Linked DNA regions of Homo sapiens. The protein of the gene in region 2 purifies or fractionates together with the protein of the main gene of each other region. This does not show direct contact. Each region holds a gene or a part of one and is shown on either strand. Other genes may lie near its edges.

What was found. The genes of interacting proteins can lie anywhere in the genome.
Region 1: the proteins of PLXNC1 (region 2) and MANEA purify together in Homo sapiens (affinity purification with mass spectrometry; one large-scale study listed by BioGRID and IntAct). This does not show direct contact.

What each region holds. Positions count from the first base shown.
Region 1 is NC_000006.12:95,597,948-95,601,534, reverse strand, and holds part of MANEA (glycoprotein endo-alpha-1,2-mannosidase), read right to left. Parts: intron 1-3,587.
Region 2 is NC_000012.12:94,246,063-94,249,649, reverse strand, and holds part of PLXNC1 (plexin-C1 precursor), read right to left. Parts: intron 1,748-3,587; coding exon 1,544-1,747; intron 1,424-1,543; coding exon 1,238-1,423; intron 1-1,237.

The sequences.
Region 1 (3,587 bases), on a different chromosome or scaffold from region 2:
GCTCCACGTGTCTGTCATTCTGAGTCCTAGGCAGAAAGGGGCATGCTTTTCTTATAAAAGAGAATAAGAGCATAATCATGCAAGCACATAGTATACATTATCTCTTCTCACATCTCATCAGCCAAAGCAAGCCATAAGGCCAAACCCAACAACAACAGGGCAGGAAGTATACTTACTCTTTGCATGCAGGGGAAGGAAAACCAGATTATTTGCTAAACAATGACGGAATCTACCAAATATTTCTGTCATGTCTTACTCAAAAAATTGTTCCGTTGCTGTGTTCTTAATGGTGCAGGATATAGAGGAAGGAATCCAGCCCTGATTTTTACACTCTCTGCAAAACCAGCCTACTAAATGACAGTTATAAGTGCAACAGCCTTTGCTCTAGCAAACATGCAGACAAGTATACTTTAAAAGAACAGAAACTAAATCGCTTTGAAAAATCAAGATTTAAATTTTAGTTTCACTCATTTACACTTCCAAAAAAAAACCTAGTCACATTTGCTAAAGATAATGAAAAATAACTAAAGCACCAATCATTTCCTTTTCTTGCATGTTTGTTTATAATTTAAAAGGCACTTACTTAAAATAACTCTTGGTTGAAGTTAACAAATCAAAATTACAATTACAAAATATTTAATGACTAATATTAGTAAAAACATTATATAATCAAAATGAATGAACTATAACAAAAGTTTAACTGTGAGACGGATTCATTCCCTAAAAATTCTCCATCCATTTAGTATTTCCATGCTTTGAAGACTAGCAAGAAAAAAGAGATGTTACTAATGAACGCATTTTACACTTAAAAGTTTTAGATGTGGTCAGTTATGTGCATTGGAGGCTCCAATTTGTCAGCACACAATCTACAACATCATTAATCTTTTCCTATCAGATTGCCTTAGCACACTGAATAATTCTAGTAAGGTACTGTCATTCATTAAACATATTAAAATTTCCTTATATTAGCAAGAAAAGGGAAAGTTTTCCATTCTTTAAAAAAACAGGATTTACTGCATTTTATTGAGTTAGGAAAAATGTCTGTTCCACAACAACAGAAATCATAGACAAATCCAATAAAACTATCTTATGGTTTCATTGTCATTGTACAAATGAAGGGGATAAGCCAAGAAGATCAAGGAACTAATATAAGATTCCAGAGCTACTCAGTTAGAACAAGCTCCAGTCTCATGATTCCAGGTCTATTCTTTGTCTATACATAGTTCCTCACCATACACGAGGCCAAGAAACTGTTCTAAAAATTTTGGAAAACATTAGTCTATCGTGTTCCAAGTTTTTCTGATCATTAGATATAAAATCCCTAGCACAGAGAGATCAAGTATGCTGGCAACATTAAATAGGCAATTAGTGGTCGAGCTCTTTGCCACACTCTCCTTCTCTACACAGACACTTTAAACAGGAGAAAAAGCCAACCAATCCTCATATATCATAACATTTTCATTTTCTCTTTCAAAACTTCCTGAAAGTACTAAAATAGCCAGTTTCTTGAGCTTCCATCTTCCAGGATTTTGGCAGGGCCTGGACAGAAAAGCAGCTCTTGGGCTTGTTTTGTGGAAGATAAATCAATCACTTACCCAACCTCAGCCTGGGCACCAGAACCTGGAGGCTTGCCTATTTGCAGATTTCAAATGCCAATAAGAACTCACTGAAAGGCACCAAGGGACATGGCAGGTGACAGCTCTTGCTAGACAGCTAATTTGAGAGATGCTGTCTTAACAGTTTCAGGATAGTAAATCAGAAAGAAGAGGCAGCTTTATGGACAGAAATAAAAAAATGCTTGCCTATTTAGCTCTTTCTCACTCCCTACAGTTCCATTTCTATTCTCCAATAACTACTCAATCTCTAGGCTGCAAAAGGAAAATTAAGACAAAACTAATGTTTCACATTTTTATTTGAAACGAAATATTTCAACAGTGGTCCATAACATATCTTACAGGGCTCAATTACCAGTATTGGACAAACCAGATTGTCCTCCATTAGAATATAACTGCAAGAAGTTACAGAGCAAATAAAAAGCTTCAGCAAATTTTAAGAGTGGTTGCAATCTCAGAGTGGTCTCTAGTTAAAAGAACCTACATCACTTTTTTTTTTTTTTTTGAGATAGACTCTCACTCTGTCGCCCAGGCTGGAGTGCAGTGGCACCAATCTCAGCTCACTGCAATCTCTGCCTCCCAGGTTCAAGCAATTCTCATGCCTCAGCCTCCTGAGTAGTAGCTGGGACTACAGGTGTAGTATATCCATCAGATATAGTGTTTGAAATAAGATACTAAGAGACACCCTTTATCAAGCTAAAGAACTTTGGTTACTAAGGACTTCATTAACAATGAATTTTTATTTCCTAAAATTTTCAGTATCTCTTAAGATAACCATGTTTTACCTTCTTTAAATAATCAATGAAGTTTTATTTACTTAGTGCTTACTCTGTGCCAGACAGCAATCTATGTTTTACATATATTATCTAATATAATCTTTATAACCATTCTGTGTGTAAGGAAGGTTTTGTTGCTATTTCTATTTTAGAGATGAAGAAGCTGAGACACAAGTCATTTATAAAGCTACAAGGTGGTTGAGCCAGGATTGAATGCAGACCTGAATTTAGATTCAGATTTCATATGATTGGAACCATTCTTAAATCCTTGCTAATAAACACTTCTTCTCAAAATTCCCTCTAGGAATTTTGAATCTATTTTCATTGGTAAGATTAGTCTGTCTCTTTCTTGTTCTATCCTTTCTTAGTTTTAAATAAAAATTGTGCTATTGTGGAATAAATTTGGAAGTTTTCTGTGGTTGCCATTCTTCAAGATGGCCCCCCGATACCCATCTCCTGGTATTCATAACTTTGCAGTTCCCTCCCACATTGTGCCATGGTTGTTTTATCCGTAGATAAAACAACAGAATGGGACAGAAGTATTAACACGTCATTGCCAAGATTTATGTCAAAAAACAAAACAAACAAAAACAACCCTGTAGCCCCTATATTAGACTCTCTCTCAGATCTTTCACTCTAGTGAAGCTGGAGGCCCATATATAGAAGTACAGAGTCTCCAGTTCACCTGCTGCAAAGAACTGAGGTCTGTCATCCACCACATGAGAAAGTCTGTTAGTGGATCCTCTAGCCTCAGATGACTACAGCACCAGCCAATAGCTTGCCTGTAACCTCCTTCAGAGACCCTGAACCAGACACTCCCAAATAAGCCACTTCCAGATGCTTGACCCTTAGAAATTGTGTGAGGTAACAAATGTTTATTGTTTTAAGCTACCAAGTTTTGGAATAATTTGTTATGCAGCAATAGATAGTGAGTATACTTGACACTGTATTTCAGTTATCATAAAAATCAACTATTCTGAATACAACTGAGAGGTAAACCTGACACTTTGGGGAAGACATTTGTTCAATTATCTTTTATACGTTTTTTTCTAGGATAGTCAATTCAGATTCTTTAAACCTCTTTCTGCACCAAAAAAAATTAATTTTAGTATTTTCCTATAAAACTACCATATAAATTTTAAATAGACTGATATAAAATCTTAAACTCTCTTCTGAAACTATAGGTATATTTCTTTTC
Region 2 (3,587 bases):
CCAGACTTCTAGAGGCTCAAGTGATCCTCCTGCTTTGGCTTCCCAAAGTGCTGGCATTATAGGCTTGAGTTGTCTCTCCCAGCCTAGTTGTTATTCCTGACTTAAAACTTACTATTGGCTGGGCGCGGTAGCTCACACCTGTAATGCCAGCACTTTGGGAGGCCGAGGCAGGCAGATCACTTGAGGCAAGGAGTTTGGGACCAGCCAGCCCAACACAGTGAAACTCCGTCTCTACTAAAAATAGAAAAAACTAGCCAGGTGTGGTGGTGCGCACCTGTAATCCCAGCTACTTGGGTGACTGAGGCATGAGAATTGCTTAAAACTGGGAAGCGGAGGTTGCTGTAAGCCAAGATCGTGCCACTGTACTCCTGCCTGGGTAACAAAGTGAGACTCTGTCTAAAAAAACAAATAAAACTTATTATTAACCCCATTTATCATACAGATGGACTAAGAGAGGCTCAGGAAACTCAAGTGATTTACCTAAGGCCACAGAGCTATTAACTGGTGCCAGTGGGACATGAACACATTTTTGTTGTTGCCTTCCAGTCTGAAGTTCTTTTGCATTGTCTTTTATCCAATTATTTATGATGATAGATCAAGAAGAATTTATATAGGCTGTACAGAGCCTCATACGGCATGAATACTATAAAGGGTGACTTCTAATGTGTTTCCCTTCTCAGTGGTCTCACATCTTTATTATGGGATATAAATATAGCAGTGATCCGTCCCCCAAACATATCTGGGAAAAGATTAATCGCAGAAAGTATGACTTCATGGTGAAGGAAGCAGCCCATGACCCAGAGATTATCTGGTCTCCATCTGATTCTAATGCTACCCAGAGTGTGCTGAAGAGGCCCTTGTTTGTTTTGGGTTTCTGCTAAGACATGTCACCTCCGCATTTGAGAAAAGAGTGACAGCTCATTTGTCAATGGGTCTAGAGATTTTGCTTGCCGATCCTACTGTATAAATGTGTGGCTAGAACAAAAGCTATCAAGACTCATTAGGATTATAGACAATGGTGTGTCCAACGCTTTGACGTTCGAACAGGCACAGGGATGGATTCAGCCAGCTATTTTGGAGCTATTTTGCTTGGGCTCGCAGTACCAGCTTTGTTTATCTTCTATTTAAAGTGAGGATCTGAAGATCCATGAAAGATTCCATTCTGGCCTCTGGTTTAGCCAAGGAATTATCACAAAAATCAGGTAAAGACAGCAGGTGGGACTGCCAGGTCACTTACCCGAACTTTCTTAGAAGAGTTGGCAATGGTGCTTGCAGTCTTGATGCCTTTAATTTTGCAAAGGATGGTGGTAAGATCTTGATTTCTAGTAATATTTTCAAAACTGCAATTTAATTGCCCATTTTCCCCATGGAAGAGAGTAATTTCAATGTCTTTTTTGGAAATGTTGAAGTTGTCATTTTCTTTCTGTAAAGAACAAAATGAAGATGGAGAAATCAGAGCACATGTAGAAACTCACGAGCATAAACACACCTTTCCAGTCAAGGGGTCGGGGTGACATCCCACCCAGAAAGAAAAGAAACATACTTGAATTTTCACTTCCAGTTCTGTGTCCACCTCGGATTCCACCCGATACCCCGTGAATCTGGGGTCCTCCCGATACTGCAGGGTTCCACAATCCAAGTAGGTGTCTTGTACTCTCAGCTTCACAGTGACATTCGTGCGCACTTTTGAACTCTTTAAACTGGGGGCTAAAAACCCGCAGTAAGTCGCCACACAATATTCAGAGACCTGGACAAAAAGAAAAGAATGTTTTAGTAACTTTGTTAACGAATCCCAGCTGTGATCTCTAAGAGCTAAGTGACCTGAGCAACTTAACTTCTTGGTGCTTCTGTTTTCTCATGTGTAATATGGAGACAGCAAAACTACCTCCCTCACAGGATTGACTTCACCCTACATTACATTAAATGAGGGCTACGTTAACTGAGATTATACATGCTTAGATCAGGGCCCGGCACACAGTAAGCACTCAAAACATGCTAGTTAATATTATGATTAATATCATGAGTGACAATGAAAGCAGCTGGAAGGTTATGCCATGGGAAAAGAGACTAGGCTGAAAGCAGTAGGCTAGGGAAAGGGGAAGATTCTGACCCAAGGGGCTTAGGTGTCCTTGGGGTCAGCCTGTCTGAGCCCTGGGAAACCACGAGAAAAGAAAAGTGTCCAACTCTCAGCAAGGGCCAGCTCCTGAAGCGCTTGTTGCAGCTGAATCACCCTTTGTTGGGGGAACCTCCTGCAGGGCCTTAGCAGAAGTCACTAGACACAAGGAGGACAAGGGTTTTCAGGCATAACAGAAAACAGGAGAAAACAAAAGTAAAAGGAACAATGCATCTCCCATGAAATGAAGAGCATGAAAACTGAAAACAATGCAAAAAAGGTGGCCTGATTTACAGGATTAAAAAAAAACAACAACACATAAATAGGCTGGGCGTAGTGGCTCACGCCTGTAATCCCAGCGCTGTGGGAAACGGAGGGAGGAGGGTTACGTGAGCCCGGGAGTTGGAGATCAGCCTGGGTAACACAGTGAGACCCTGTCTCTCTCTATATATATAAAAAATAAAATTTAAAAAGTTAGTAAATACATAACATAAATATATTGTCCTGTTTAGGTGTACAGAAGGACAGGCAGAGGAGGCTGGTGGGTTAGGGGAGGATGGCAAACATTCTACAGAAAAGCAATTATAACTCATAAAAAGAAATTTATCAGGTGGGAAAAACTATTTTTCCCCCACCCCCGCCACCCCCTGATACTAGAGCATAAAAAAGACAATAGGAAGAGGCAATTGGTGGGAAAATATGATGTAAAGAGCTGAGATTTGGACAAGCACAACCTTCCTTTCCCTTCACATCTTTCCAAACTATAGCCCTGAATCTCCTGCTCACATTTCTGTCCTCAGGATGAAAACCACTGTCTCTACTGCCTCAGCAGCCTTAACTCCTAGCAGGCTGGCTTTTTACTGAAGATGCCTTCTAGAAGGATTGCAGGTGAGAGGATCACCCAACCCTATTATCCTCAAGACTCTACAGTTCCATACTCGTGACAAACTCGCGCCATGCGATTTACTCTTTTTCACTGGTTTCTGAGCACCTTCTCGGCCACCTTCACGGCCCATCCTACTGTCTGTCATTCCTTAAAATGAAGCTTTGCCACCAGTCCTAGGTGCTCTTTTCTTCCTCCTCTGTGCTCTCACTCCCATGATGTCACCCCCACTCTCCCTTCAACGATACTGCTATAAAGACAAGCTGGTCATCTCTAGCTTCACGATGCCCCAGCACTTGAGACCTGCTCTGCTAACCACAGCCCAAAGGGAGCTACTGTCAGCCCAGAGAGACTGTGGACGTCTCAGACACACCTGCACTGGCATGAGCATCCTCACTGGGCTCCCAGCCTTTCTTCAGTTCCTGCCTCTCCAAACTCAGCTGTGCACCATTGCCAAAATAATAACCGCCCTGCAGGAGGTTCCCCAACAAAGAGTGATTCAGCGGCAACAAGCACTTCAGGAGCTGGCCCCTGCTGGGGGTTGGACACTCTCTTCTTTTCTCGTGGTTTCCCAGGACTCAAGACAGGACA